Linked DNA regions of Homo sapiens. The protein of the gene in region 1 binds, or shares a complex with, the protein of each later gene. Each region holds a gene or a part of one and is shown in the gene's direction. Other genes may lie near its edges.

Region 1 (7,307 bases):
CCTTTTTCCTTTTGTTCCTATGTTCCTTTCCTACCTTATTTTGGGTTAATATTTCCATGTTTCATTTTATTGCCTCTATTGGCTTTTTAGCTATATCTCTTTTCATTATCTTTTTTAAAAGATGTTGCTGTAGATCTAACAATATGCATCCCTCAACTCATCAAAGTCAACATTTTACCCCCTCATACTTCACATTTCTCACCTGACACATCATGCTTTCTTTCTACTTTACCCTTTCTTATGTCACTCTGACACTTTCTGGGTTTTACTTCATGCTTCACAAATGTCACAACAGTGTGATTTCATTTACACATCCATTCCTTTGTCCTATTGTCATATATTTTACTTTTACAGATATTATATACTCCAACTTACAGTGTTTTTTTAACAGTCATTTGTCTTTTATGTAAATTATGAAAAGAAAACATGGGCTTTTATATTTATTCACTTATTTACCATTCCTGGCATTCTTTTTCCCTTCTGTAAATCCTATAGCATTCCTTGTAATATAGGTGACAGATTCTCTCAAATTTTAACTGAAAATGTCTATTTCACTCTTATTTTTTCTTTCAACACTTTAAAGATGTAGTTTCACTGTCTTCTGGCCTCTGTTGTTTCTGATGAGAATCAGCTGTTCTTATGCTTGTCTCCCTGTCTGTGATGTTTCATTTTTTGTTGGGTTTTTTTTTTTTTTTTGAGACAGGGTCTCGCTCTCTCACCCAGGCTGGGGTGGATCTCAGCTCATTGCAGCCTCCAGGCTCAAGCAATCCTCCCACCTCAGCCTCCCAAGGAACTGGACCACAGGTTCACGCCACCACTCCTGGCTAATTTTTTGTATTTTTGACAGAAATGGGGTTTCACCATGTTGCCCAGGCTGGTCTCAAACTCCTGACCTCAAGTGATCTGCCCGCCCCGGCCTCCGAAAGTGTTAGGATTACAGGCATGAGCCACCACGCCCAGCCTAAATTCTGATTTTTAATGTTTAAGTAAATTTGTTTTCCTTGCAACCATCAATAAAATGTTTTCTATTATTTATATGTAGGATAATCTTTTTGGGTTTCTTCCAAGATTTTTCCTTTACCTTTGATTTTTCAGTAGTATGACCTTAATGTACCTGGTTGTGGTTCATTTTATCCTGTTTGTGGTTCACTGAGCTTCTTGGATCTGGAAGTCTGTTTTTCAGCAGATTTGGGAAGTACGGGGATATTATTTCTTTAAATATTTTTTTCTGCCTCAATCTTATTCGGTTTTTCTTCTAGGACTCTTATTACATATGTATTAAACCACTTCATAGTGTTCGTAGGTGCCTGAGGCTCTATTCTTCTTCCTTCCATGTTTTTTTTCCCACTATTCTTCAAATTGGTTAATTTTTTTTTTTTTTAAGACAGAGTCTTGCTGTGTCACGCAGGCTGGAGTGCAGTGGCACAATATTGGCTCACTGCAACCTCCACCTCCCAGGTTCAAGCATTCGAGTGATTCTCATGCCTCAGCCTCCCGAGTAGCTGGGATTACAGGCATGTGCCACCACACCTGGCTAATTTTTTGTATTTTTAGTAGGACATGGTTTCACTATGTTGGCCATGCTGATCTTAAATGCCTGTCCTCAAGTGATCTGCCCGCCTCGGCCTCCCAAAGTGCTGGGATTACAGGCGCAAGCCGCTGTGCCTGGCCCAGATTTGTTGATTCTGTTGACTTATTCCATCACCTCTGTCTGCTGTTAAACTTCCCAGGGAATTGTTCATTTCAGTTATTGTGCTTTTCAGTTACAGAATCTTAACTTTGTTACAGTTTACTTTAGCAGTCCCCAACCTTTTTGCCCCAGGGACTTTTTAGCACCAGGGGGTTGGTTTAGGGATGATTCCAGCACATTGTATTTATTGTGCACTTTATTTCTATTATTATTGCACTGTAATACATAATGAAATAATTCTACAACTCACCATAATGTAGAATCAGTGGGAGCTCTGAGGTTATTTTCCTGCAACTAGATGGTCCCATCTGGGGATGATGGGAGACATTGACAGATCATCAGGCATTAGATTCTCATAAGGAGTATGCAGCCTAGATCCCTCACATGTGCAGTTCACAGTAGGGTTCACTGTCCTATGAGAATCTAATGCCACCACTGATCTGACAGGAGGCAGAGCTCAGGCACTAATGTGAGGGATGGGGAGCAGCCGTAAATACAGATGAAGCTTTGCTTATTGCCCTGTCACTCACCTCCTGCTGTGTGACCCAGTTTGTACCAGGCTGTGGACCTGGGGGTATATTGGGGGTTGGAGCCCCCTGGTTTACATTTCTCGGTTCAGATTCCTTATCTCTTCACTAATCAAAACACTATTTTCCCAAGCCCTTCTGATTTGGTCAGACTCAATCTCTGAACTATTTTCATTACAGATCATGTTGTGGCTTGATTTTAGGCTTTATTGGAGAGGATCTAGAGAAGACTTACTGTATATGTATTGACCAAATTCTTACTTAGTTTATCCCCTTCTTGCCATATAAGGGGAAAGAATGAGATGTGAAAACATCTTATTTTTCTGTGAATTTTCTTTTTAAACCAGGGATTATATGCTACTTTGGTACTTAGTTCTGCCTACTTGGTCATAATTAGGGCTAGAGTAGACCTCTACTTTTTTAAGAAATGAAATTGTAAGCTATGTGTTTCACATGTTCTTTTAGCTAAATTTAACTCTGGTAATTAACACTGAATTTAATAGATGAAAGATATGTTGCTTCAGTTTTTGATTGGATGTCTAAAGATTATATTAGCTCTTACAGATTTTTGTTCTTTTTTTTTATAAGTAAGATATACGCCAGGTTCTCTCTGAAATTTCACTTTTCTATTGGCCCTCAAGTAGGACTGAGAAAACTAACCTTCAGATTGATGCCAAAGCATCATTGGAAGTAGAGACTTTCTCTCCTTTCTCCATTATGTAAAGTTAAGGAAGATATCCTGGACAGGGCTGAAAGTCTTCTAAGAAAACCTAAAGCGGCCGGGCACGGTGACTCATGCGTGTAATCCCAGCACTTTGGGAGGCCGAGGTGGGCAGATTACCTGAGGTCAGGAGTTCAAGACCAGCCTGGCCAACATGGTGAAACCCCATCTCTACTAAAAATACAAAAATTAGGTGGTGGCACACCCCTGTAATCCCAGCTACTCAAGCAGGAGAATTGCTTGAGCCCGGGAGGCAGAGGTTGCAGTGAGCCGAGATCGTGCCACTGCGCTCCAGCCTGGCCGACAGAGTGAGACTCTGTCTCCAAAAAAAAAAAAAAAAGAAAAAGAAAAGAAAAAAAGAAAACCTAAAGCAAGCATAGATGAAATGTGGAATGTCACAGCTGCCAGGGAAAATACAACTTTAGGAAAATTATTACTGGCAAGAACTTGAAGATCTTAATGAGAAGAACTCTAAAGTAAATTTAACTAAAACAAGGTGTTGCTTTTAACTGTGGCTACGGGCAAAAGAACTAAGAAGGTATTTGGTTTGGTTTTGCTTTTTCTTGTTCTGTTATTATTTTTAAGGCAAGAAATGTATGTTTTAATTGAAGGCAAGAGTAAGAATAGACAGGTTTAACTTACAGATAAGTAGATATATAAAAGCAGCATCTCAGTTCACCGTGCATTGCTAGATAGGAAGGACCAAGCTAACTGTTAGTTCAGATGTGACTGAGCAATTTTGGTGTGCATTTGGACTTTTTTTTTTTTTTAAATGGAGTCTCATTCTGTCACCCAGACTACAGTGCAACGGCACAATCTCAGCTCACTGCAACTTCCGCCTCCCGGTTCAGGCATCAACCTCCCAAGTAACTAGGATTATAGGCGCCTGCCACCACACCTGGCTAATTTTTGTATTTTTACTAGAGACAGGGTTTCACCATGTTGGCCAGGCTGGTCTCGAACTCCTGACGTCAAGTGATCCGCCTACCTCGGCCTTCCAAAGTGCTGAGATTACAGGCATGAGCCATCACGCCCAGCCTGTATTACATTTGGATTTGATAGTAAACAGAGTTTGTGAACCCAGAGGTTTTTAATTGCTGGGACAAAGGGTATTCGTATCACTGTTTACAACATTCAACCACGAAGTTCTATTTTCTTAAACTTAACTAAAAGGTAGAGAATTAGACTTCCCTGGGCAGGTATGATATATAAAGTACATATTTATGTCATTAGTGGAACCCAGCTTGAGATAAATTAATGGAGCTTCCATAAATTTTCTTTATTCTCATTAGGAGCCAGCTTTTGGCAAAAAAAAAAAAAAAGGCCTATTTCTTCTGTGTTACTCATACTTACATGCTACCCAGAAGTCTCTGGCCTAGCCAGGAGATTTTAAACAATTGAAATAATTCATGTTTTCGTTTTAGGGTTCACCTTTAGATGTTCTTAAAGATGAAAGGGTTCAGTACTGGATTGAGAATTATAGAAATTTATTAGATGCCTGGAGGTTTTGGCATAAACGAGCTGAATTTGATATTCACAGGAGTAAGTTGGATCCCAGTTCCAAGCCTTTAGCACAAGTAAGTACATTGTTTTGGAGAAAATCAAATTGTAACATGTTGATGTTCAATTTAATAAGTTACTATTAGCTCATTATTTTGCTTATATTGAGTTCCCATTGATGTCTTTGTCTTTTGTAGACTGAACTTTGTCCTTGATCTTCCTGTCCTTTGGTTCTGCTTCTTGCTAACAATCATCTCAGTGGCTTGAGCTTTAGTCGCAGATAGAACAAACCACAGCAGGCCTGAAGTTTTCCAGTGTATTTCCAGCCCTTTCAGATTCTAAACTATTACATTATCTTATAAATTCCACTTGTGTATTAAGTTTTTTAGCATTATTTATGTGCAGTAAGGCAGGATTTGGGTTTTTTAGACTTTAGCAGTATTACCTATATCTATATGTTTAATTACACATGGAAATTTTTTTTTAGCATTAGTTTAAAAAATGAGATTGTTGTCACATAAGGTATACCACATTAAATCACTGTGTCTTAGTTCAGATATTAAATATTATGTTATCCTCAATATGAGCACTGGATGGTGCTATTTTCTTATTTTAGGAACTTGAGAAAGTGCTTATGTTAAAACCAGAGTGTTGATAAAATAGCATTACATGGTAGTACATGTTACTAATCTATATGATAAGTGATTAAGAGCCTAGCAATTTACGGTAAAAACAAAATGAACAGCTTCTATTGCTATTATTCTAAAAATTTAACTATTTACCATTATAAGTTTGTTAACTCTCTTTGTCTTAGGAACAGCGTTTTCTTTATAAGAAAATTTTGTTCAGAAGATTATATCACTGAACTGTGGTTTAGAAGTCATATTGGGATATTTTGTAATGGCCCAGTGTGAATTCTGAAGTCATTGTTATTTCTAAAATGTTGGAGTCTAAAGTTTGAGTTCTTCCACCAATTTCAGTGGTATTAGTAAGAATATAATTAAAAAGGAAGTACCCCAAAAATGTAATTGCTAGGTATAAATTTTAAATGAAAGCTAGTCAACCTTAGCAGATCAATTTTGAAATATAAAATAAAGTTTTTTAAAAGTATTTAAAAATAATTTGTTAGGCGCACACTAAGTTATTTAGCATTCCATTATGGTTTGCATTACATTTATTTTTTCTTTCATTTGTTTTGTAGGTTTTTGTGAGTTGCAATTTCTGTGGCAAGTCAATCTCCTACAGCTGTTCAGCTGTGCCTCATCAGGGCAGAGGTTTTAGTCAGTATGGTGTGAGTGGCTCACCAACGAAATCTAAAGTCACAAGTTGTCCTGGCTGTCGAAAACCACTTCCTCGATGTGCGCTTTGTCTCATTAATATGGGAACACCAGTTTCTAGCTGTCCTGGTATGACATAATTTTACAAAATACTTTTATGAACTGAAATGATTCTTACATAATTGAGTTAATGTTGCAAATAAAATACAAACTAGCTAGAGTTATTATTTCTAAGAAAGGGCAGTTTACTAGCTTGAAGGCTTTTATGTTCCTATAATTTATGAACTATGAAAACTAAAAGCAAAATCTATATCTATTGATACTTCAGGTAATTTCACAAGTTCTGACCAATTTAAAGTTTGTGAGAAAAACTTAAATATGAAATAATCTTAATATATTACCATTTTCTTATCACTGTTTCCACTAAGAGGAGTTCGTTCAAATTTGATTATTTAAAAGTCAGTATACCCGCACCTATTAACAGATACTTTGTATTTCTAAGGATCTTTTGACATCATTAAAGCACTTTGACATTTCTTCCTTCATCTTCAAAACCTACCTATAAAATACATGAGAGAAGGGTCAGTTGCAGTGGCTCATGCCTGTAATCCCAGCTCTTTGAGAGGCCAGGGTGGAAGGATTACTTGAGCCTGGGAGTTTGAGACCAGCCTGAGCAAAATAGTGAGACCCCATCTCTATAAAAAATTTTTTTGGCCGGACATGGTGGCTCACGCCTGTAATCCCAACACTTTGGGTGGCCGAGGCTGGCAGATCACAAGGTCAGAAGATCAAGACCATCCTGGCAAACATCGTGAAACCTCGTCTCTACTAAAAATACAAAAAATTAGCCGGGCGTGGTGGCACACACCTGTAGTCCCAGCTGCTTGGGAGGCTGAGGCAGGAGAATTGCTTGAACCCGGGAGGCAGAGGTTGCAGTGAGCCAAGATCATGCCACTGCACTCCAGCCTGGGCGACAGAGCAAGACTCTGTCCTAAATTTAAAAAAAAAAAATGTTTTTAATTAAAAAATAATAATAAATAAGAAAATACATAGAGAAAGTATTAGCCTAGAAGTCAGGTCCCTTGACTTCTAGATTTTGATGCTGCTTCTGCTGTTTGTCAGTTACCTAGTAAATTTATATATATATATATATATATATATATATATATATATATATATATATATGAAGGCAATACGTAATGTTTTAAATGTACATTTTAGTTTTGATTTAAATTTTAATCAAGGATTTTTATTTTATACATTGCATACTGACCACTCTTTTATGTTACTCTGGTCCTAATAAACAGAAAATAACAATTTGGAATATATACATATACACACACACACAGTGTTCGTTTTTGTTTGTTTGTTTGTTTTGTTTTTTGAGACAGGATCTCACTCTGTCACCCAGGATAGAATGCAGTGGCATGATCTCGGCTCACGGCAACCTCTGCCTACTGCCTCCTGCCTCCTGGGCTCAGGTGATCCTCCCACCTCAGCCTCCCAAGTAGCTGGGACCATAGGGTTTCACCCTGTTGCCCTGGCTGGTCTTGAACTCCTGAACTCAAGCGATCCACCTGCCTCAGCTTCCC
Region 2 (7,307 bases), on another chromosome or scaffold:
GTGAACTTCAAGTTTCTCCTTTTCGACAATACCTTCTGTATATTTTTCAAGTATGTTGGTGCCACGTGATTTAATTGATTTTGCATGCCTAATGCTTCTCGACCTGTTTCTCAGTATCTTTGTTTGCTTATTCTTTCTCCTTAGATTGTAAACTCCTTGATTCAAAGTCCATATCTTCTTTCTTTTGAGCATCTCAGAGTCTAGTATGTTTTCCAGTTAATGGGCATACAATGCTGTGCTGCTACTGAGAAAGGTTTTCCAGAAAATAGTATTTGATTTTTTTTTTTTTTTTTTTTTGAGACAGAGTCTCGCTCTGTCGCCCAGGCTGGAGTGCAGGGCGTGATCTCGGCTCACTGCAACCTCTGCCTCCCAGGTTCAAGAGATTCTTCTGCCTCAGCCTCCCAAGTAGCTGGGACTACAGGCGTGTGCCACCATGCCCAGCTAATTTTTGTATCTTTAGTAGAGACAGGGTTTCACCATATTGGCCAGGCTGGTCTCGTACTCCTGACCTGGTGATTCGCCCACCTCAGCCTCCCAAAGTGCTGAGATTACAGGCGTGAGCCACAGGGCCCGCCGTATTTGATTTTTAAAGGTATTGAGGGGGTGGGAACTTTGCTTATGACATGATGGGTTTAGCCTGTGCCTTGGACTTAATAGACACTTAGAGGCTATTGGTTTCTGCTCAATGGCTCCAGGCCCCATGGGATTTCAAGTCGGGGAGGTATTCCTCAGATTTGGTGTCAACAAAAAGAAAGCCAAATCCATTTTGTCTTGGCCTATTGTTATTATTGTTACTTTTTAGCTTCAGAGAGGATACTGAAACTTTTATAATGAAGGCAACAAAGTCTTTCATTATTTAGGAAAAGAGGGACAGATCTTAAATGTGTTATAGACTGCCTTTTTTTTCCTCCCTGCCAACCCAACTTACTGATGAAACAGCATTTTAAAAAGTCATGTGAGGCCGGGTGCAGTGGCTCACACCTGTAATCCCAGCACTTTTTGGGGCTGAGGCAGGTGGATCACTTGAGTCCAGGAGTTCCAGACCAGCCTGGCCAACATGGCAAAACCCCATCTCTACTGAAAATACAAAAATTAGCCAGGTGTGGTGGCACATGCCTGTGATCCTAGATACTCGGGAGGCTGAGGCAGGAGGATGGCTTGAACCCAGGAGGCAGAGGTGGCAGTGAGCTGTGATTGTGCCACGGCACTCCAGCCTGGGCGACAGAGCGAGACTCTGTCTCAAAAAAGTAAAATAAAATAAAAAGTCATATGAGTTAGTGGTTAAGTAGATGACCCACTGAAATTATTACACTGTGTCATTTCTCTGATGTTTGCTTAATGAAAAATTTTTAAGCCTAGTGTTTCTCAAACTTTAGAGTGCACATAACTCCCCTAAAGAGTTGGTTAAAGTGTAAACGCTGATTCAGTAGGTCTAAGTGGGGCCTAAACTTATGCATTTCAATAAGGATCCAGCTTTTGCTGCCCCCAATGTAGCAAGGCATCAGGTTTTATATGGAAGACAGGTGGGATTGCTTCATGGTTTCGGTTCTTGTCCTTGCCAGTTTGAGTTTGTATTTCTCTTTGATCTGTCCAGGTTTGGTCGCTGGCTACGGTAGCTACAGATCTTTGCCTTGGTCCGAAATCTGACCCAGATTTGGAAACACCCTGGGCTCGACATCCATTTGGGCGGCAGCTGCTGGAGTCCCTGTAGGTTTTGAGAGCTAAAAATGAGAAAAATGAGTGATGTCCATTTTTGGTCTGTAAACACTTGAAATGTCACCACCTAAGAGAAAGGTGCAGAGGCCCGAGGAATGAAAGGAAGGAGTAGGATCTTTCCTTTCAGTGCTGAAATAATTTCTGTGCAGAACAAACTTCTTATAGCAGACAGAACCATACATTACTTGTCATTTATAACAAGGATTTGAGACCCCTGAGACTCATGTATCCTTTAGAGATTCATGCTTTAGTCCATAAATCACATCAGTCTGAATACAGGAGTTTGAGCTCATGAGATGGTAAGTTTCTTCTTGAAAGCTCTAGGGTCTCACCCTTGAGAATGGATTAGAGAATTGCATGTTGGTGTTCATGTTTGCCAAAGACCACGACGCTTTCACCCTGTTAGGCAATTTGAGAAAACATTGCCTTTGCGTTCAGTTTATTGCACTGACATATGGAAAACTAGGGTATACTATACAAAATAATTTAACACCAAGTAAAACCACTTGAATCTCCATAACTTGGAGGCCCAGGGCCTGGGGAGAGAAACGCTCCTGACTTCAAGTTGAAGTTTGCTTAATTTATGCATTAAGGCCACCCCTGGGACACGTGTTCGTGCTTCCGTTTCCTTGTCACTAACACAGGGATGATAAGGTTTACTCTACTTATTTCGTGTAAGACTCAAATAAGATAGTGAGTGTGAAAACACAAATATTAGACATTGAGTGATAGGAGGACATTAATATTATTCATTCTTAAAGGCAAAGCCCCTCTGATTCCTTACTCACATTCTAGCATAATCTTCCTGAAAGGACAAAGGGGATATGAGTACCTAAAGGACAGAAACACTCCTTGTTGTTCTTACCTAATAGCTCATCTTCATAACTGCACCTCCAGAGTCGATTGCCTGCTAGCATGCTGTGGCGGTCCAGTGTCCTCTGAGCTCCTTCATGTAGCTTTAGGTTATATAAATGACATGTGTGGGAATCCCCCAAAAGCAGTGTGATTCTTCCTTGGAGCTGGGAAGACAGAGCATGTATTGGCTCGCTCAGATGTCAGGTTAGTCCACTTAGTTCTTGGAGAAGCCACATTCATGTTTAAGCCCATGCCTGAAAGTTAGCCAGAGGCTTTGAGATGCGTTCTGTAGATCATTTGTAGTACGTGGATGCCTTATATTCCAAAACAAGTTTAGGCAAACTCAAAGTAGGTCAAACTGCCGGATCTGTAGAAAGCCCCATTTCCTGATGGGTTTTTGAGGCAGAATCAAGACTCCTCCCTTCCCACCCCTGTGGCAGTAACACGCCATGACTGTGACCGCTTTCCTCCTCAATCCCTCCTCCTGACTTGTTTTCTTTCCTCTTATCTTTTCCTCAGGTTGGCTCACTATTGCCGGCTCCGGGATGTTCAGACACTGGCGATGCTCTGTAGCGTGTTTGAAGCCCAGTCTCGGCCTCAGGGGCTACCAAACCCCTTTGGGCCTTTTCCTAACCGTTCTTCTAATCTTGTGGTGTCCCATAGTCGATATGTAAGTTTGTCCTTTTCTGGTTTTGTCTGATTTTTTTTTTTTTTTTTTTTTGAGACGGAGTTTTACTTTGTTGCCCAGGCTGGAGTGCAATGGCATGATCTCAGCTCACTGCAACCTCCGCCTCCTGGGTTCAAGCAATTCTCGTGCCTCAGCCTCCTGAATAGCTGGGATTACAGGCATGCACCACCACTCTTGGTATATTTTTGTGGTTTTAGTAGAGATGAGGTTTCACCATGTTGGCCAGGCTGGTCTCGAACCCCTGACCTCAGGTGTTCCACCTTCCTTGGCCTCCCAAACTGCTAGGATTACAGGCATGAGCCACCGTGCTTGGCCTGCTGTTTTCTTAATGTGAACTGTCATGGGGAATGGTATTCTCATGCTAGTCCTGTTGGTTCTTCTCTTCCCTTCTGTAGCCTAGCTTTACCTCTTCTGGTTCCTGCTCCAGTATGTCAGACCCAGGGCTCAACACTGGCGGCTGGAACATAGGTTTGTATGGAAATGACTTAGCCCACGCTGGATTTTTAGTTCTCCCAGAGCTGTGCATATGTAACCTTTAGTTGATGCTTAGTCTCCATATTTTTTCTTATTTCTTATTTCTCTTTACATTTACTGTGATAGGGATACTCTTGCTGGAGGCCTGACTTTGCATGTTGAACAGACCACGTTCTGGGGGTCTTTGTGCCTTGCTGTGTTGCTTTTCATCTCTTAACCTTGAGAAACTGACAATGGGACTTCCCACTGTTCACCCCCAAAACCTAACCCTTATCCTTTCTCCTTCACATGCTCTTTCCATGTTCATCTGCCACCTACCGCTTCCCATGAATGCTTTCAGTGTAGACAAATACAGCTGGGCCTGACTCCAGTTGATCATAAAGCTGTTTGCTGAGTAAGGTGTATTTGTGTTTCCTGGATTTAAAAAAAAAAAGGTTTTTAAAATGATCTTAATTTTCCTGATATCAAAAGTAGCTCATGCCCAGTGAAGAAAAGCAAGCAAAAAGTATTAGAGAAGAAAATTGTAATTATTGATCTCCCACCTAGGAATAGCGTCCATTAACATTCTAGAACATTTGCATCCATTCTTTGTGTGCAGGAGTGTGGTCATTTGATATATGTGACTTTGTGTTCTATTTTTCATTATATCATGAGCAAATATTGTTCAAAAAGTCCTCGTAAATAATGACTATGTAATGTTCTACTGTATCTCTGTGCCATCATTTGCTTTATTTATTTATTTTTTTTAGTTTTTTGAGATGGACTCTTGCTCTGTCGCCAGGCTGGAGTGCAATGGCATGATCTCGGCTCACTGCCCCCTCTGCCTCCCAGGTTCGAGCGATTCTCCTGCCTCAGCCTCCTGAGTAGCTGGGATTGCAGGCACGCACCAGTACGCCCAGCTAATTTTTGTATTTTTTTAAGTAAAGACATAATTTCACTATGTTCGTCAGGCTGGTCTCAAACCTCTGACCTCAGGTGATCTGCCTGCCTGGGCCTCCAAAAGTGCTGGGATTCCAGGCATGAGCCACAACGCCCAGCCCATCATTTGCGTTAGCATCATGTGTGTGTACTTAGTGATCAAGTTCTCTTAGTAATAAATACCTGCGCAAAAAGGCAAGGGTAGGAGAGAGTTCTATTTAGTTATATTTCTCAGAATATTCAGCCTCGCTTAACATTTCTTCTGGGAAATCCATTGGCCACGTGCTGTCTTATGAGACTCTTCAGATATTTTCCATGCCTTCTCTGATTGCCATCTTCCCTTCCCATTTGATTTTCTTCAGCGGGAAGAGAGGCAGAGCACTTGTCCTCCCCTTGGGGAGAATCCTCACCAGAAGAGCTCCGCTTTGGGAGTCTGACCTACAGTGATCCCCGTGAGCGAGAACGCGACCAGCATGATAAAAATAAAAGGTAACCACCCTCCCAGGTGAGAGCTGCAATGCCAGGACTCCAGGCAGGACTCCAGTTTCTCCACAATCACAACTCTTACTTTTTTTTTTTTTGGACACAGAATCTTACCCGGTCACTAGGTTGGAGTGCAGTGGCGGGATCTCGGCTCTCTGCAACCTCTGCTTCCCAGGCTCAAGTGATTCTCCTGCCTCAGCCTCCTGAGTAGCTGGGATTACAGGCACACGCCACCATGACTGGCTAATTTTTTGTATTTTTAGTACAGACAGGGTTTCACCATGTTGGCCAGGCTGGTCTCAAACTCCTGACCTCAAGTGATCCACCCGCCTCAGCCTCCCAAAGTGCTGGGAGTGACAGGTGTTAGCCACCGTGCCTGGCCAGGACTGTTGCTTTAAGAAGGGTATATTAAGTGCCATTTAGGATGAAGCTTGTTTTTTCTTAAAGGAACTGACAGGAAATCTTTTTAACTTTATCCAGGCTCCTGGACCCCGCCAATACCCAGCAATTTGATGACTTTAAGAAATGCTATGGGGAAATCCTCTACCGTTGGGGTCTGAGAGAGAAGCGAGCTGAAGTGTTGAAGTTTGTCTCCTGTCCTCCTGACCCTCACAAAGGGATCGGTGAGTATGAATTTCTCTCTCTTCCTTTCACTGTCTGAAAGATCCTGTAATTTAATATGTCCACAGCCTCAGACTTGGAATGAAGTTTCAGCTTCTCATTTCTAAGCAGAAATTTCTGAGGCATTTTGAGTCTATTCCAAGCATCTGAAAAGCCCTTGCATTTCGTAACAGGATGAATTTTTTTTTTTTTTTTTTTTTTTTTTTGAGATGGAATCTCACTCTTGTTGCCCAGGCTGGAGTGCAGTGGCGTGATCTCAGCTCACTGAACCTCTGCCTTCTGGGTTCTAACTTCTCCTCCCTAAGCCTCCCGAGTAGCTGAGACTACAGGCGCCTGCCACCATGCCTGGCTAATTTTTGTGCTTTTAGTAGATGGGGTTTTACCACGTTGGCCAGGCTGGTCTCGAACTCCTGACCTCAGGTGATCTGCCTGCCTCGGCCTCCCAAAGTGCTGGGATTACAGGTGTGAGCCATGGCGCATGCCCAGGATGCAGTTTCTATTGCAACAGAAGTAGTTGATATACAGTACTCCAGCGCGGATGAGAGGGATGGATATTTCTTCATTTATTCCACTGTGTGTCCGACTCCTCTTAGGCACAGTGCCCACACATTCCTTCCCCCCATGGAGCTTACAGCTGAGTAGGGGGGAAAATTAAGTAATTTCAAATTGTGATAAATATTCGCAAGCAAACAGAAACGATGTGGGGGCAGGGAGAACAGAGAGGGAGAATCTTAGAAGAGGAATTGAGGTGTGTTGAGAAGGCCTCCAAGGAGCTGAGGTCTGAAGGTTTAAAGGAACCGTGGAGCCATCGGTGCAGAGTGGTGAAAAGAGCATCCCACACTGAGGGACAGGCCCCAGGGAAATGACTGTCGTTGTGAACAAGCGAAGGAAGGTGGCGTGGTGTGGTTGGAGTACAGTGGGGAGAAGAGTGATATCAAATTAGAGTGTAGAGAACTTAGGGTTATATCAGGCAGGGGCTTGTAAGTTGCGGTAAAGAATTTGGATTTGGCCGGACGTGGTGACTTACGCCTGTAATCCCAGCACTTTGGGAGGCCAAGTCAGGCAGATCACTTGAGGCCAGGGGTTTGAGACCAGCCTGGCCAACATGGTGAAACCCCGTCTCTACTAAAAATACGAAATTAGCCAGGCGTGCTAGTGCACACCTATAATCCCAGCTACTCAGGAGGCTGAGGCAGGAGAATCGCTTGAACCCAGGAGGCAGAGGTGGCAGTGAGCCAAGATCACGCCACTGCACTCCAGCCTGGGTGACAGAGCGAGACTCTGTCTCAAAAAACAAAAAGAATTTCAATTGTATCCAAGTCCAATGGTAAGCTTCCAAGGGCATAAGAAGTAAGCAGTGTGCTTTGGGTTGTGTTTTAAGAGGGTCACTGTGGCCTTCCTACGAGGAAAGGATGGGAGGAGGGCAGATCAGAAATAGGAAGCCCGTTCAGAGACGTTGTAGCGGTCAGAGGCAGACAGCCCGGTCTGAGGGTGGCATCGCTAGAGTTGGAGAGAGATGATGGATGGGTTAAAATATATTTTAGAGCTAGAC
Region 3 (7,361 bases), on another chromosome or scaffold:
AGCCTGCCAGGGCCAGTACGAGACCATCGAGCGACTGCGGAGCCTCAGCCCCAAGATCATGCAGGAGGCCTTTCTGGTCCAGGAGGTACAGCCCATGCCTGCCCCTTATCATGGGGAGGGAGGAAGACAGGTGGGGGTCCTTTGAAGGGGGTCCCGCTAACCCTCAGCCCCTGAGGGTGGATCCTATGCCAGGACCATTGCTAGGCAACACAGAACATGTGGGTGGACCTCATCCTTCTGTCTGGTGAAGAGCATGGGGCACAGAGAGGCTTGGCTCTGCAGGGCCTTCTGGATCCGAGCCGCTTGGGAATGAAGAAGAATGTTGACCCACGGCCCCGTCTTCCTCCCTGGTACCCCATTCGCAGCCTTGGCTCTTATTTCTCTTTGTTCTTTCTTTATGGATACTTGTCTCTCAGGGGCAATTAGGTGGAACATGCGTGACCAGCTTTTACACATGAGGAAATGGAGGCTCACAGAGGCAGAATCACTAAGCAACTCCCCTTAAAGTCACCCACCCAGGTGGAGCTGGAATTTGAGCCTAAGCAGCCAGGCTGCCCTGGGCAGCGGTGGGTGACAGGTTGGCAGAGAGCAGGTTTTTGTCTGTCTGGGTCTTACCCCTTTAGCCCCATAGTCAGGCAGGTGGACTCGTGAAGCTGTGGGCAGCTTTATCCTCTGAGGCGGTGGGTCTCAAGTGTCCAGCTCACCTGGCACTCAGCTGTGGGGCTCGTGACTGCAGCTTGGGACTAGACCCTCATCCTTCCTGGGGTCAGTGTTTAGTGGCCAAGGCTGGGGGATGCTGAGGAAGACTGGGGGCCCAGGCTGGGAGGCAGAAGGGGAAGGTCCTTCTTCTTGGTGTCCACTTGCCTGTGTCACTGCCCCTGCAGGTGGTGGAGTTGCCCGTGACAGAGCGCCAGATTGAGCGCGAACACCTCATTCAGCTGCGGCGCTGGCAGGAGACCCGGGGTGAGCTGCAGTGCCGCTCCCCGCCCAGGCTGCATGGTGCCAAGGCTATCTTGGATGCAGAACCTGGTCCCCGGCCTGCCCTACAACCTTCACCATCCATCCGCCTGCCCCTAGATGCCCCCCTCCCTGGCTCCAAAGCCAAGCCCAAGCCACCCAAGCAGGCCCAGAAGGAGCAGCGGAAACAGATGAAGGGGAGAGGGCAGCTGGAGAAGCCCCCAGCCCCAAATCAAGCCATGGTGGTGGCCGCTGCAGGAGATGCATGTCCCCCACAGCATGTGCCCCCGAAGGACTCAGCCCCCAAGGACTCAGCCCCTCAGGATTTGGCTCCCCAGGTCTCAGCCCACCACCGCTCCCAGGAGAGCTTGACGTCCCAAGAGAGTGAGGACACCTACTTGTAACCCTGGCAGCTAAGGCCTCCAGGGCGGGGTCTCCATATAACTACACGGTTCATGAACTGACATTCCACATCCTGCCCACCCTCTGAGGGCCAAGCTGCCTGGCCACTGGGCTGGGCTGGAGTCTGGCTGGTCCAACACAGATTCTGCCTGGTCCAACACAGATTCTGCCTGAGCCTCCTTATTTATTTTCTTTACAGTGGCACTCAGGCTGGCCCAGCCAGGGCAGGCAGAAGCTAGGGCCTGGGGGGTGGGGCCTCCTTCAGCCCCCTCCTCCTGGGGGATGCTCCCCAGGGTTAGGGTGCTGGTGTGAGGGGAAAGGGTGGGGTGTTCTTTGTGTAAAATAGAAACATGGTTTTGTACAGAAATAAACAGCCTTGTATAGAGAGCTCGTGTACAGCTAGGGGCTGGGAAGGGGGTACCACCTTGGTCACCTTGGTGCTCAGCATCTCTTCTCTTTGCCCTACAGAGCCCCTTCTCCTGGGCCCCAGCCCAGCACCAGAGCCTCTCTGAGAGGTACCTTTGCCAGAGGACATGCCAAGTCCCTGGTCAGCCCCCATTCTTAACCCCCATTTTCACTCACCCCATCCCCACTGCCTTATGTCTACCTTCTGCCACAGATGAGGGACACCAGGGCTGGAGCTCAGTGCTGGGCAGAGCAGGGCGTGCTCCCTAGGCCTTGGTCCTCACCCACCCACCAAGGGGGCAGGGACTCCTAAGGAGGAGGTTTCAGGGTCTTCCTCCTTCAAGTCCTGGCCTGGATGCTACCTCAGGCTCCAGTAAGTTTCTGAGAGCTGATTCTGGGTTGGGGTCAGGGACGGGGCCCGGAGTGGAGCACCACGAATGTCCTCACAGGCTCAGCCCAGGCCCTCAGGGAGGGGGGCGAATTGTGGTTCTTTGATAAAATGCCGCCTTCGATTTACTGCCAAGTGCCAGGCTGGACTGGTCAAGTAGGCTCCATTAGCCCCATTTAACAGACGAGGAAACAGGAGCTGAATGGGAAAGCCTCAGCCGGATTTGCACCAAGAGCCCCTCACTCAGCTTCCTCTCCTGACCAGGGCTCCAGGAGACCTGACTCTGCCCTTGAGGGCCCAGGCAGGCACTGCGGTCACAACCTGATGACTGGTGAGGGCAAGGACAGGGTGTCCCTGGGAGAGGCCCCCCTTCTGCTGAGGAAGCAGCTTTTCCAGTCAAACAATAGCGCTATTCCTGGCAGATGACCAAGCTGGGCCAGGCCAGGCCATAGCGGGAGGGGGCAGGAGAGGGAGGAGCAGAGCCTCCCTGGGAGCTTTCAGCCTTCGCCTGGGCCTGGAACATCCTGTCCTGGTACAGCTGGGGATACTGAGGCCTAGGGAGGTGAAGGGTTTCAAGAGACTATCAGGGTAGGCCACTCCACTTCCTGCCTCCTTCCCCTCAGCCCCATGGTTTCCCACTCTGTCTGCACCTGCCATTGATGAGATGGGCTCAGCCTTTGAGAAGCTCCTCCTTCCCCTAGTCCTCCAGGGGATAGGCCAGGATGTGGTGGCTACATAGTGTTTCACAGGAATGTGTCAAGCCCGAGAGTCCAGGGAGGAGGCTTAGCTTGGCTTCCATCTGCCTATGGTGGGGGCTCCAGAGCAGGCAGAGGGCCTGCTTAGGCCTGCTGGGTCCCAATCAGGCCTGAGGCCTGCTTTAGTCTACTTGGTTCAAAGCCTCACATCTGAGGCCTCAGGGTGCTCAGGCCAGGCAAGGGTCCCCTGGAGCATTCTCAGCCCTGCATGGAGCCAACATGGACATGCTGATGCCTGCTTAGCCTTGGGGGGGTCTTAGACCTGTGAAGGCCTGATAAGATCTGGGGTGTCTGCCAGTGCCGGGGGCCTCCTTGAACCTGAAGCAAGTTTAGATGTGCACAGGCTAGCTAAGGGCTGCAGGCTTTGGGGCTCAAGTTTCAGGCTTGAGGTCTGAGTACTCACTGAACCTCAGCTGCAAGGGCCTCCCCCACCAAAGTCTGAGCACTGGGCATTACTGGCTCAAGCACTTCCGGGTTTTGTTGGTATCGAGGGACCTCAAGCCTTAGGCCTTGGCCACCTGCAGCCCCCTAACCCAAAGTATGTCGCTCAGGCAGAGGTGGCTAGGATTCTACCTCTGTGTGCCCCTGGTGAGGAGCCTTCTATTTTGAAAGTTGGATGAAAGGAACAAGTGGGGCTACCAGGCCAGGTTTCAATTTGTCAGCCCCCTCGCAAGCGGGGAAGGGTAGGTATCAATCGCAATCCTGTGTTGGCGGCCCTGCCCCCTGCAGCCATGAGAGGCAGGAGAGCGAAAGGCGCCCGGGGGACAGCGCTGCACAGCAGACCTGTGCCTCTCATTGCTCCGGGGATTTGGGGGCAGCGTTCTGGTCCTAGCCGAGCTCCAGTTTGTTTCGTGTCCCTTCTGTCTCAAGGACTTCAATCATGAAACCCACGTGTGTGCCAGAAGGACAGAAACGTCCCCTCCGGGATGCTCCCACCGGCTGCGCAGCTGGCTTTCCGCGGAAAGGGCGGAGCCCAGGGAGGGGGCGCGTCAGGGGCGGGGCCTGGAGGAGTCAGACGGGGTGGGGTCTATCCCCGAGCCAGTACTAAAAAAGGCGGAGCCGTTCGGGGCGGTCTCGGTGGGCTGGCTGGAAAGCGGGATGAGGTTCTGGCGTTAGGAGGAGGCGTGACCACCCAATAGGCTTCTCTTCCCGCGGGGCGTGGCCGTCAAGGAGCCGGACGCCGCGCCTGGCTGGGCGGGTCAGCCTCGCAGCGGGCGGCGTGGACGCGGCAGCGCAGCGGCTCCTTTAAGGCTCGGGCACCACCCCCGCCGCCCCGCCTCCCGTGCGGCCTGGGTCTAGTTGGCGGCGGGGTCGGGTCCGCGCGAGCCGCGATGGAGCTGCACATCCTAGAACACCGGGTGCGGGTGCTGAGCGTCGCCCGTCCCGGTCTCTGGCTCTACACCCACCCGCTCATCAAGCTGCTCTTCCTGCCCCGCCGCAGCCGGTGCGCGCCCGGGTTCGGGAGCGCAGATAGGGGCTGGGGGCTCTGCTCTCGCTCCGGGCCAGGGTCGGAGGATTAGGATCGCCGTAAGGCAGGCAGGCAGGCGGGCGGGAGCGGGTGGGGAGGACTCTCCCCGTCCGGCCGCCATCCGGCCTGGGGGACCGCCGCCTATCCGGCCCCGTGAGGCCCCCTCCCAGGGGCAAAGCGCAAACAGCCTGGGATGGGCAATGCTTAACTCAGTAGTGTCAAATGGGGGCATTCCTACCTGGTCACTGCGGGGAGCTCCTTCCAGGACGCCTCCCTTCATGTCAGAGGGGCTGGACTAGGGGGTCCAAGGTCCGACGCCCCTGGGGCTGTCGCCGCGGGTGTGAACCTCTCCTCCCTCCAGGAGTGGAGGGGTGGAGGGTTCCTGGAGAGGTCGGGAGGCCGGAAAGTAGCCCCCAACCCCCGAGATGGGGCTAACATCCCATTGGCCTGGAAATTAAAGGCCGAGAGGGCAAGAAGGCGCCCGGCCCAGGGTCGCGGGGGTGTCTCGGGGCAGATGGAGAGAAATCCACTCCCGACCCCTAGTTCTCCACACCAAGCTGAAGATGCTCCCCACCCCCAACCAGGTGCAAGTTCTTCAGCCTGACGGAGACCCCTGAGGATTACACGCTTATGGTGGACGAGGAGGGCTTTAAAGGTGGGGGTTGGTCTGGGGAACGGGAGTACGGGAGGGGCTTGTCGTGCTCCCCTTCTGTAGGGTTCTCACCAGTTGCTGGGATCCGTCCCAAGAGCTTAAGCCTTAAAAGCAGATGGGTCGGGGTTCGAATCCTACTCCACCACTCCCTGGCTGTGTGCCCTTGAGCAAATCACTTTCCCTCTCTGAGCTGTTTTCTCTTATGTAAAATGGGTATAGTTATGGTTCTGATACATAGGGTCCCATGAGGCCTTTATAAACTTAAAACCGCTGAGGGGCACTCAGCAGTCTTAGGCCTGCAGAAGGGCCTCTGTTATGATTCCAGTCAAGTGCTGCTGTTAGAAATCCCTGGGTATTATTTCCTCCTGGTCTTACTCTCTGGTTTGGGTCACCTCCTCCCCTGCTGGTCTGGAAACTCCAGGAGTCTGAGGGAAGGAATGCAGGAGCAGGCAGCCATCTCAGGGGAGGGTCCTGGAGGCCTCCTGGCTGTGCTGGGGTGAATAGCAGCCACCCAGGCCCTGGCCCCAGCTCAGGACTGGACGCCAGCCTGGGCCCTCCCTGGGGCCTGGAGCTGACGCCTAGCTCCTCCTCCTGCTGCTGGCCCTGCCCATCCTCACAGGCTTGGAGTCTCAGGCCAGCTAGCTGGAGCTTAGCCTGTCCCCATGCTCCACTGCAGGCCTTAGTTTCCCTGTTTTTACTTCAGAAGTCTGGGTCTGCAAAAGGGGAAGGCAATCCCCCAGCCAACCTGATCTGCGAATGCCCCCTGGTGGTGCCATGTGGTACAAAGCTTCTGCTAACCCACAGAAGACACCGTAGTGAGGTAGATATTGTCGTCCCATTTTACAGATGAGGAAACTGAGACTCAAATCACCCACCCCAGGTCATAAGACAAATTAACAAAGCTGGGATTTGAACCCAGGTCTGTCTGAATCTGGACCTCTGATCTTAAGTGGGAAGTTTCAATGCCACCAGGCCAGCACTTGAAGCCTTTCTCAGTCTTTGCACACATAGGGACTTCAGGAGCCCCAGCCTCCAGACCTGCCCTTACCTTGATGGAGCCCTCCAAGGCACAGAAAGGGAAACTGAGGCTCAGAGAGGGGCAGGGGCCAGCCTTGTAGACCCTGACCTGACATGTCCCCTGCCCACAGAGCTGCCCCCATCTGAGTTCCTGCAAGTAGCTGAGGCCACATGGCTGGTGCTGAACGTGTCGTCTCACAGCGGTGCGGCAGTGCAGGCTGCTGGGGTCACCAAGATCGCCCGTTCGGTCATCGCGCCACTGGCCGAGCACCACGTGTCTGTGCTGATGCTGTCCACTTACCAGACGGACTTCATCCTGGTGAGTTTCCTGCTGGTGCTGATGCAGAGCAGGGTGGATATAGGTACCTGGGAGCCCATGTGATGTGCCATCTGCTGTGGCCCAGGTGCGGGAGCAGGACCTGTCCGTGGTGATCCACACGCTGGCCCAGGAGTTCGACATTTACCGCGAGGTGGGCGGAGAGCCTGTGCCTGTGACGAGGGATGATTCCAGCAATGGCTTTCCCCGCACTCAGCATGGTGAGGGCCGCCCCCTGACACTTGGACTTGGGCAGGGCCTCCTCTTCCCACTGGGTCCCTTCCCTTTTGGGCCCCAGTGGGGCAGGAGGACCCCGGCCAGTTCCTGGATAGCAAGACCTGCCCCTGGCCCACGCCTCTCCCTGACTAGCCACCAGGGGGCGCCCCAGCCCACGGACACCTTTTCACCTGCTGCTGTCCTCCAGCAGGGCCCAGCCCCACGGTGCATCCCATCCAGAGCCCACAGAACCGCTTCTGTGTCCTCACACTGGACCCTGAGACGCTTCCAGCCATCGCCACCACCCTCATAGATGTCCTCTTCTACTCGCACAGGTGGACCTTGGAACTTCGTCTTTGTCCTCACAGCACTGTTCCCTACACTCTGTCCCACCACTTTCCGCCCATCTATCAGTTTTGCACCTCTTGCTTGTCCTCTCTTGGGGTTCCTGGCAGCCCATGATGCTCACTTGTGCTTCACTGATGTTCGGGGAAGGTTCTTGCCCCAAAGCTGGATCCCTTTCCAGTGGGGTCGTCTGAGCCATGCCCTGGTCTGGCCCTCTCACCGTGGAATCCTTTGTTTTTGGCACAGGCTGGGTTCATTGTCCTCCCCCATCCCCACCCACACCTTCCAGAGGGCTGGACCCTTGGGCGGGTAGCAGATATGGCAGAGCCTGCCCAGGCCACCATACCAGCTCCTTCCCAGGGTTCTGGAGGCTGATCGGGAGCAGGGGCAGTAGGCTGGGTGCCTGGTAGAGCCCCTAAACCTCCCATCCCTCCCCAGCA
Region 4 (7,307 bases), on another chromosome or scaffold:
GAGTAGAAGTTAGCCAGACAAAGAGGGCAGAAGCACTCCTGGTGGAGAAAACTGCATGTGGTAAGGCCGTGAGCAAGAGAGAGGGAGTATATTTATACTGTTGTTGGAACATGCTGGGCAAAAATGAGTGTGGAGAGAAATAGGCAAGACTTGTATCTATAAGAAGTAATGTCCATTGTTTCAGTTTTATCTTACAGGTGATGTGAATAGGGAATAATGGGATCAGATGGATCTTCTATAGGTGTGACAAGTGTTTTGGAGGGAAACATGGTGGATTCACGGCTAGGATGCTATGAAGACAGTCCAGGTGGGAGAGTACGTGGCTTTGGGATAGTAGTAGCAGTGGCATGGAGATAAGTGGACAACTTGAGAATAATTGAGAAGTGGTATCAATAGGATCTGGTGATTGATTGGATTTGAGAACTGAACTGAGGAAGAAGGGGGAAGGTGTTAAGATGATTTCCAAGGTTCTGGCTTAAGAGTTCAGTGTGTAATTTCAATGTGTGTAATTTCTTGAGATAAGGAACTCTGGGAACAAGGCAGATTTGGGTAGAGTGTGGCAGCATGTGAAGGTAAGTTAATTTTGGTCATGCCGAGATACAAGTGTCTGCAAAGCTTCTGAGAGCCAAAAGCAGTGTCTCAGAGGCACACTACTCAGTCTTACAGGAGAAGAGAGCACTTGTCAGGTGATCAGATGGGCTTCGCAGGTACTAGACAAAATTCTTGAGTCTAATAGTCAGATCTTAGGCAGGGCCAGCAGTAGAGAAGGAACTAGTGTTACTCCCGTGGGCTCTGCAATTCCAAATGTTACCATCTGGGTTACCAAGGGGATCTTACACCTTCTACCTTCCTAGATTGTTGGTGTCTGCAGAGAGGCTCAGTCTTCAACAGTGCTGTCCAGTAGAATGTGCTGCAGTGATGGGAAATGGTCTTAGAGATTTTCATGGAGTTTTAAGCTGTAAAAACTATGAGCCCTATTAATAGCACATTTTATAGAGGCTTCATGAAGTGTTGGGCTTGTTAAAGTAAATTTCAACCTGAGCTGAGCAGAATGAATATGTAGACATAAGCCCAAAAACGTAAAAGGTGTATCATTGGCCACGCGAGGTGACTTATGCCTGCCATCTCAGCACTTTGGGAGGCTGAGGTGGGTGGATCACTTGAGTCTAGGAATTCAAGACCAGCCTGGACAACATGGTGAAACCCTTTCGCTACAAAAAGTACAAAAATTAGCTGTGGGGATGATGGCGCATGCCTGTAGTTCCAGCTACTTGGGAGACTGAGGTGGGATGATCACCTGAGCCTGGGAGGTCGAGGCTGCGGTAAATCAAAATTGCACCACTTCACTCCAGCAGTGTCAAAAAAAGATTTTTTTCTAAAACATAGGAAAAGAAAATATTTCATAAGTAAGATTTGAGTAAAAAGATAAATAACTTGCAGTTAGTTCTGAAAGAAAATACAGGCAAATAGAAATTACCTATTTTTTTTTTTTTTGAGAGTCTCACTCTGTCACCCAAGCTGGAGTGCAGTGATGCAATCTCAGCTCACTGCAACCTCTACCTCCCGAGTTCAAGTGATTCTCCTGCCTTAGCCTCCTGAATAGCTGGGATTACAAGTGCGTGCCACCACGCCTGGCTAATTTTTGTATTTTTAGTAGAGACGGGGTTTCACCATGTTGGCCAGGCTTGTCTTGAACTCCTGACCTCAGGTGATCCACCCACCTCGGCCTCCCAAAGTGCTGGGATTACAGGTGTGAGCCACCACGGCCGGCCTAGAAATTACCTAAGTATTTCTAAATTACCTAAATAATCCAATGTTAAAAATAATCTGAGATTGCATTTGAGTCTAGTCTCTTAGCTAACAGAATAAATCTAGACTGGGGGATTCCCTGTATTATGTCATGTGACAAGGAGCCTGAGGGTGGAGCAGTTCTGGGGTTAGGTAGTGACTCAGTTGCTCAATGATGACATCAAGGACCTACCTAAATATTTTCCACTTTTTTCTTGCTGTCATGCTTAGTACACTGGTGATAGCTCCCTCTTATGATCACAAAAGAGCTGCACAATGTCAGGTTTTACATGCTAATACAAAGAAGGGTATTCTAGAAAAAAACACCTTTCCTAGAAGTATCTTAGCAGGCTTCTTATCAGGTGCTGGCGGCTGGAGTTTGGTCATCCAGCCATGCCTTAGCTGCAAGAGAGTGAGACAGCAAGTGTCTGGCATTTTCAGCATCAAAAACGAGGGGAAGTGGTGTTGGGGAAAGAGTGTCTGCAGGTGGGGGTGTGTGCTATTGACTTGGGAAGTAATCAAACCTATTAAGTTCAGCACTTTTTGGAGTTCTGTTGCTGGTTCTTTGAGGTAAGCATTGTTTGAAGGTTCTTATTTAGATTGAACGTGGAGGAGATGTGATAGTGGACTATGTAGTATCGTTATTAATACCTGTTTATCTTTTTCTCTCTTTTTTTTTCTTTGAGATGGAGTCTCACTCTGTTTCCAGGCTAGAGTGCAGTGGCGCAACCTTGGCTCGCTTCAACCTTTGCCTCCCGGGTTCAAGCGATTCTCCTGCCTCAGCCTCCCCGGTAGCTGGGACTACAGGCACCCGCCACCATGCCCAGCTAACTTTTGTATTTTTAGTAGAGATGGGGTTTCACCATTTTGGCCAGGATGGTCTCCATCTCTTGATCTTGTGATCCGCCCACCTCAGCCTTCCAAAGTGCTGGGATTACAGGTGTGAGCCACCACGCCCGGCCTGTTTATCTTTTTCTAAGTAGTATCACCATTTAGTAGACAGGAGACATTTGCCAAATTAACCAGTGTTGGATATATTTGTTTTTATTTGTGAGTGAAAATACTAAAACAGATCTAGGATTGATAGTGATAATAGAAGTGCCATGTGTTTATATAGGTTACCGGGCATTTTTATGTGTGTTATGAAGTTTGAATCCTACCAACCACCTTGTAAGTAGAGGAGACAGCTTTTATTAACACTGTTTTACAAATGAGAAAACTGAGACCAACAGAGTGAATGACTAGTCTAAGGTCCAGAGTCAGGACCAGAAACAAAGTCTTTTTTGTTCATTCTCTTTATTTACACTCTCATTGAGGATCTTATTTGGCTCCTTCTGATAGGAGAAGCTTTAGATAACCTTAATTATTTTTATTTTTATTTTATTTTTTTTTTTGAGATGAAGTTTCACTCTTGTTGCCCAGGTTGGAGTGCAATGGTGTGATCTCGGCTCACCGTAACCTCCGCCCCCTGGGTTCAAGAAGTTCTCCTGCCTCAGCCTCCCAAGTAGCTGGGATCACAGGCATGTGCCACCACACCCAGCTAATTTTGTAGTTTTAGTAGAGATGGGGTTTCTCCATGTTGGTCAGGCTGGTCTCGAACTGTCGACCTCAGGTGATCTGCCTGCTTCGGCCTCCCAAAGTGTTGGGATTACAGGCGTGAGCCACCGTGCCCAGCCACCTTAATTAATTACAATATATAGCTTGCCTCAGGTAAGAAAAAAAAAATCTCACTTTTTCAACATTTCATAAGCAGCATGGACTGTACTAAGAGCTGAAGGAGCTTACAGCGCCTAGGATATGGATGAGGATGGTCACCTGCTAGAGATGGCAGCACATACCTGCCTGGTAGGGTGAGAAGTTTCAGCTGATGATGTTTGAGCATGAATCTTGAAAGACAGAGGGTGTTCTGCAAGCAGAGAGGAGGCAGGAGCAAAGACAAGGGCGTGGGGTCGAGGCGGTGGGTGGGGAGGCTAATGCAGGAGAGAGACAGGGGAGGGGCAGGCCAACAGGCCAGGCAGATTTTGGAGAGTGGTGCTTGCCAAGTCTGATCTCTATCCTGGCAGCATTTGGACTTTTGCAGGGTCCAGTAGAGTCACAAGGTTGTATTTACCTTTTAGGGAGATGACTTTGGCAGCTGTGTGGACTGGGAGCAGGAACTCAGGGATGAATGCAGTAGCCCACTATGATGTGGAATGAGGACATGCACTGTGGCGTGGGATGAAGAGGGACCGGGGAGACTTGTCTAGGAGGCACCAGCTGTAGGTCACGTGAGTCTTGGTTTCTGACCTAGCTGATGGTAGTGCCACTTGTTGAGATGGGGACTGAGCAAAGAGGAGTGAATGTGGTAAGCACAATTTATTTCAGACATATGTTTGAGGTGCGTTTGGAACATCCAGGTGGGGATGTGTAAAGGCAGATGGATAGAATAGCTGAGATTAGTTGTCTATTGCTGCATGACAGCATTATCACTCAGTGGCTGAAACAGTACAGATTCGGTATTTCAATGTCTGTGGGTCAAGAGTCAGGCCAGACTGGGAAAGACTCCACTTCGGAGCTCACCTGGTTGTTGGCAGCACTCGTGTTCCTGCCACGAGACCCTCCCTTGTGTCCTCACAGCATGGCAGCTGCTTCTGCAAGGCCTGAAAGCAGGAGAGTCTTCTCATGAGGCAGGCGTCACAGGCTTGTGTGTTGTAGTCACACGGGTGTTGTCCCACCACCTTGCCATGTTCCGTCCCCTGGGTAGAAAACAAGCCACGGGCCCCACTCACACTCATGGGGAGGAGCCTCCACAAGGGCGGGACCACCAGGAGGTGCGGGTCATGGGGGCACTTAGAATCTCTCTGCCACAGTACGGGTGTTCCTCCCACTTTACGGAGAACTTGCTGAAGGTCGTTACAGCCTGGATTCAAACACGTTCTGGCTGCAGCATGTGTGCTCTTAGCTCCACCTGTCCTATTTCTGGCCTTTGGTAGAAGGCCAGAATCTATCCCCTGAATTGCAGGGGATAGATTTAGGAATTATTGGTTTATAGGTACTGAAACCATGGGTGTAGAAACCATGCATATTCTGGCCGGGCGCAGTGGCTCACGCCTGAATCCCAGCACTTTGGGAGGCCGAGGTGGGCAGATCACGAGGTCAGAAGATCGAGACCATCCTGGCTAACATGGTGAAACCCTGTCTCTACTAAAAAATACAAAAAAAACAAAAAACATTGGCCGGGCGTGGTGGCAGGCCCCTGTAGTCCCAGCTACTCCGGAGGCTGAGGCAGGAGAATGGCATGAACCTGGGAGGCGGAGCTTGCAGTGAGCCGAGATCACACCACTGCACTCCAGCCTGGGCGACAGAGCCAGACTCTGTCTCAAAAAAAAAAAAAAAGCATATTCTGATTGTGTAGGCCCCAGGAGGGGGCTGAGATTCTGGATTTCCCAGAAGCTCCCAGGCTGCTGCAGACCACACAGTAGAAGCAAGGATGTGGATGAGATTGCTTAGGGTGATTGGATGGGTGAGAAAGATCAAGGAGAGAACCTTGAGGTGTGTACCAGCTTGGTAGAGATTTTAGGAAGAATGTTGGGATGAAAAGAAGGTCAAGTGAAGAATGCTGTAGAAAGGTGGGATGGGGAGATGTCTCCACCCAGTCTCCTACATGCAGGGGGTTAGGTGCTGCCGTTCTGTCCAGGATATTCAATCTTAGAAGAACCTAGTAGAAAACTCTGATCTACCACTGCCTTCATTATCCTCTTATTCTGTATTTATAGATAAAGAAATAGAATTGCAAGGATGAAATAGCCTTTGCATAGTTTCCTTTTATTATCACTTAACTCAATTCCTGCTGGGCGCAGTGGCTCACACCTGTAATCCTAGCACTTTGGGAGGCAGAGGCGGGTGGATCACCTGAGGTCAGGAGTTCAAGACCAGCCTGACCAACATGGTGAAACCCTGTCTCTACTAAAAATACAAAATTAGCCAGGCGTAGTGGTGCACGCTTGTAATCCCAGCTACTCAGGAGGCTGAAGCACGAGAATCACTTGAACTCAGGAGGCGGAGGTTTCAGTGAGCCAAGATTGCGCCATTGCACTCCAGCACAAGAGTGAAACTGTCTCAAAAAAACCTCAATTCCTGTTACCAGCTTTACTTTTTTATTTACATTCAAATACTTAGGCAATGTGTTACTCTTTTCCTAAGAAAGATGTTAGTGGCTAATAAATCAAGCCCTTTTTTATTTTTTATTTTTGCAGTTGAGTCTTACTGTGTTGCCCAGGCTGGAGTGCAGTGGCGTAATCTCAGCTCACTGCAACCTCCGCCTCCTGGGCTCAAGCCATCCTCCCACCTCAGCCTCCTGAGTAGCTGGGACAATGGGTGTGCACCACCATGCCCAGCTATTTCTGTATTTTTTGTAAAGATGGGGTCTTGCTGTGTTGCGCAGGCTGGTCTTGAACTACTGGGTTCAAGCAATTCTCCCACCTCAGCCTCTCAAAATGCTGGGATTACAGGTGTGAGCCACTGTGGCCAGCCAAGACCTTATTGTAATTAAATTTTTATTAAAGCGTTTCGAGCTAAATGTACATTATTAAAGGAGGAAACGTGGGAGGTTGTATTAATTTCCTAGGGCTGCCATAACAAATTACCACAAATCAGGTGGCTTAACACAGAAATGTATTCACTCACAGTTCTGGAGGTCGGAAGTCTGAAATCAAGGTGTTGGGGCTGTGCTTCCTCTAGAATCCTTCCTGGTCTAGTCCAGCTCCTGCTGGCTCCGGGAGTTCTTTGGCTTGTGGCAGCATAACTCCAATCTCTGCCTCTGTGTTCACATGGCTGCCTCCTCTCTGTCTCTGCGTTTCTTCTCTTCTTTTTAAAGAATACTTACTGCACGTTGGATTTAGGACCCACCCTAAATCTCGGATGTCATTCTGAGGTCCTTAATTACATTTTCAAAGACGCTATTTTTGAATAAGGTCACATTCACAGGGTCTGGGGGTCAGGACTTGGACATATTCTTTTGGGGGCTGCTGTTGAGCCCACTACAGAGGTGAGCACTACATGATTGTGAGCAGTGTGAAAAAAAGGTGAGATGCAGTGATGTGTGGATTTTTGCACATTTTATTTCTAAAATGTTAATGTCAATTGTTTTTCCATTAGGAAATATGCAAAAGCTGAAACTCTTATGACAGTCACTGATCCTGTTCATGATATTGCATTCGCTCCAAATTTGGGAAGATCTTTCCATATTCTAGCAATAGCGACCAAAGATGTGAGAATTTTTACATTAAAGCCTGTGAGGTGAGTTTTAGAAGCATTTATGAATTTGAAAATACTCTTGCCTTCTGATTACCTTTGTTTGTGGAGGAGAGAGTAGAGGTAACTATGATTTGGTTTATATTTCTGCTCTGGAAGTTTTACTTAAAAATGTAAACTTTGAAATGTTTTTTAAAAATGGTCTTTTACAGTTACTTTTTTTTCTTTCTTTTTTTTTTTATTGATCATTCTTGGGTGTTTCTCCCAGAGGGGGATTTGGCAGGGTC

Evidence for each region.
Region 2: the proteins of MIOS (region 1) and WDR59 are in contact, whole or in part, in a cryo-EM structure (PDB 7UHY), measured with the Homo sapiens proteins. Residues at the interface, in NP_001357005.1 of Homo sapiens: Asp705, Trp710, His711, Arg713, Ala714, Ile718, Ser721, Lys728, Pro729, Leu730, Ala731, Gln732, Val733, Phe734, Val735, Ser736, Cys737, Asn738, Phe739, Ile744, Lys780, Pro781, Leu782, Pro783, Leu787, Cys788, Leu789, Gly793, Pro795, Gln819; in NP_085058.3 of Homo sapiens: Tyr871 (codon at 5,679), Arg876 (codon at 5,694), Glu877 (codon at 5,697), Arg879 (codon at 5,703), Ala880 (codon at 5,706), Glu881 (codon at 5,709), Leu883 (codon at 5,715), Lys884 (codon at 5,718), Pro889 (codon at 5,733), Pro890 (codon at 5,736), His893 (codon at 5,745), Lys894 (codon at 5,748), Gly895 (codon at 5,751), Ile896 (codon at 5,754), Glu897, Phe898, Gly899, Val900, Tyr901, Arg906, Glu908, Val909, Arg910, Thr912, Phe922, Gln923, Ala925, Ile926, Cys927, His928.
Region 3: the proteins of MIOS (region 1) and CASTOR1 are in contact, whole or in part, in a cryo-EM structure (PDB 9LVK), measured with the Homo sapiens proteins. Residues at the interface, in NP_001357005.1 of Homo sapiens: Ala83, Asn84, Val109, Pro110, Lys111, His112, Ala113, Arg114, Asp134, Lys135, His136, Arg137, Asn184; in NP_001032755.1 of Homo sapiens: Val94 (codon at 6,271), Ser116 (codon at 6,337), Thr117 (codon at 6,340), Tyr118 (codon at 6,343), Gln119 (codon at 6,346), Thr120 (codon at 6,349), Asp121 (codon at 6,352), Thr188 (codon at 6,844), Tyr236, Leu255, Thr256, Ser257, Ser258, Ala295, Tyr296.
Region 4: the proteins of MIOS (region 1) and SEH1L are in contact, whole or in part, in a cryo-EM structure (PDB 7UHY), measured with the Homo sapiens proteins. Residues at the interface, in NP_001357005.1 of Homo sapiens: Arg279, Arg316, Ser317, Phe353, Glu354, Arg355, Ile356, Ser357, Leu358, Ala359, Trp360, Pro362, Leu366, Met367, Trp368, Ala369, Cys370, Gly371, Arg372, Leu374, Tyr375, Glu376, Cys377, Thr378, Glu379, Glu380, Glu387, Asp389, Ile390, Ala391; in NP_112493.2 of Homo sapiens: Met1, Phe2, Val3, Ala4, Arg5, Ser6, Ile7, Ala9, His11, Lys12, Asp13, Leu14, Ile15, His16, Asp17, Val18, Phe20, Phe22, His23, Gly24, Arg25, Met27, Trp47, Ser173, Ser174, Ser175, Asn230, Leu231, Gly232, Arg233.

The regions. Positions count from the first base shown.
Region 1 is NC_000007.14:7,590,618-7,597,924, forward strand, and holds part of MIOS (GATOR2 complex protein MIOS), read left to right. Parts: intron 1-4,362; coding exon 4,363-4,515; intron 4,516-5,639; coding exon 5,640-5,844; intron 5,845-7,307. UniProt on the Homo sapiens protein: As a component of the GATOR2 complex, functions as an activator of the amino acid-sensing branch of the mTORC1 signaling pathway. The GATOR2 complex indirectly activates mTORC1 through the inhibition of the GATOR1 subcomplex.
Region 2 is NC_000016.10:74,884,103-74,891,409, reverse strand, and holds part of WDR59 (GATOR2 complex protein WDR59), read left to right. Parts: intron 1-1,594; coding exon 1,595-1,707; intron 1,708-3,090; coding exon 3,091-3,241; intron 3,242-3,654; coding exon 3,655-3,727; intron 3,728-5,013; coding exon 5,014-5,140; intron 5,141-5,614; coding exon 5,615-5,757; intron 5,758-7,307. UniProt on the Homo sapiens protein: As a component of the GATOR2 complex, functions as an activator of the amino acid-sensing branch of the mTORC1 signaling pathway. The GATOR2 complex indirectly activates mTORC1 through the inhibition of the GATOR1 subcomplex.
Region 3 is NC_000022.11:30,286,375-30,293,735, reverse strand, and holds the start of CASTOR1 (cytosolic arginine sensor for mTORC1 subunit 1), read left to right. Parts: upstream 1-4,230; 5' UTR 4,231-4,238; coding exon 4,239-4,351; intron 4,352-4,959; coding exon 4,960-5,030; intron 5,031-6,175; coding exon 6,176-6,363; intron 6,364-6,448; coding exon 6,449-6,581; intron 6,582-6,787; coding exon 6,788-6,911; intron 6,912-7,359; coding exon 7,360-7,361. Other genes in the region: TBC1D10A (TBC1 domain family member 10A), read left to right, coding at 1-85, 885-1,361. UniProt on the Homo sapiens protein: Functions as an intracellular arginine sensor within the amino acid-sensing branch of the TORC1 signaling pathway. As a homodimer or a heterodimer with CASTOR2, binds and inhibits the GATOR subcomplex GATOR2 and thereby mTORC1.
Region 4 is NC_000018.10:12,971,828-12,979,134, forward strand, and holds part of SEH1L (nucleoporin SEH1), read left to right. Parts: intron 1-3,905; exon of another isoform or gene 3,906-4,055; intron 4,056-6,924; coding exon 6,925-7,065; exon of another isoform or gene 7,066-7,066; intron 7,067-7,307. UniProt on the Homo sapiens protein: Component of the Nup107-160 subcomplex of the nuclear pore complex (NPC). The Nup107-160 subcomplex is required for the assembly of a functional NPC.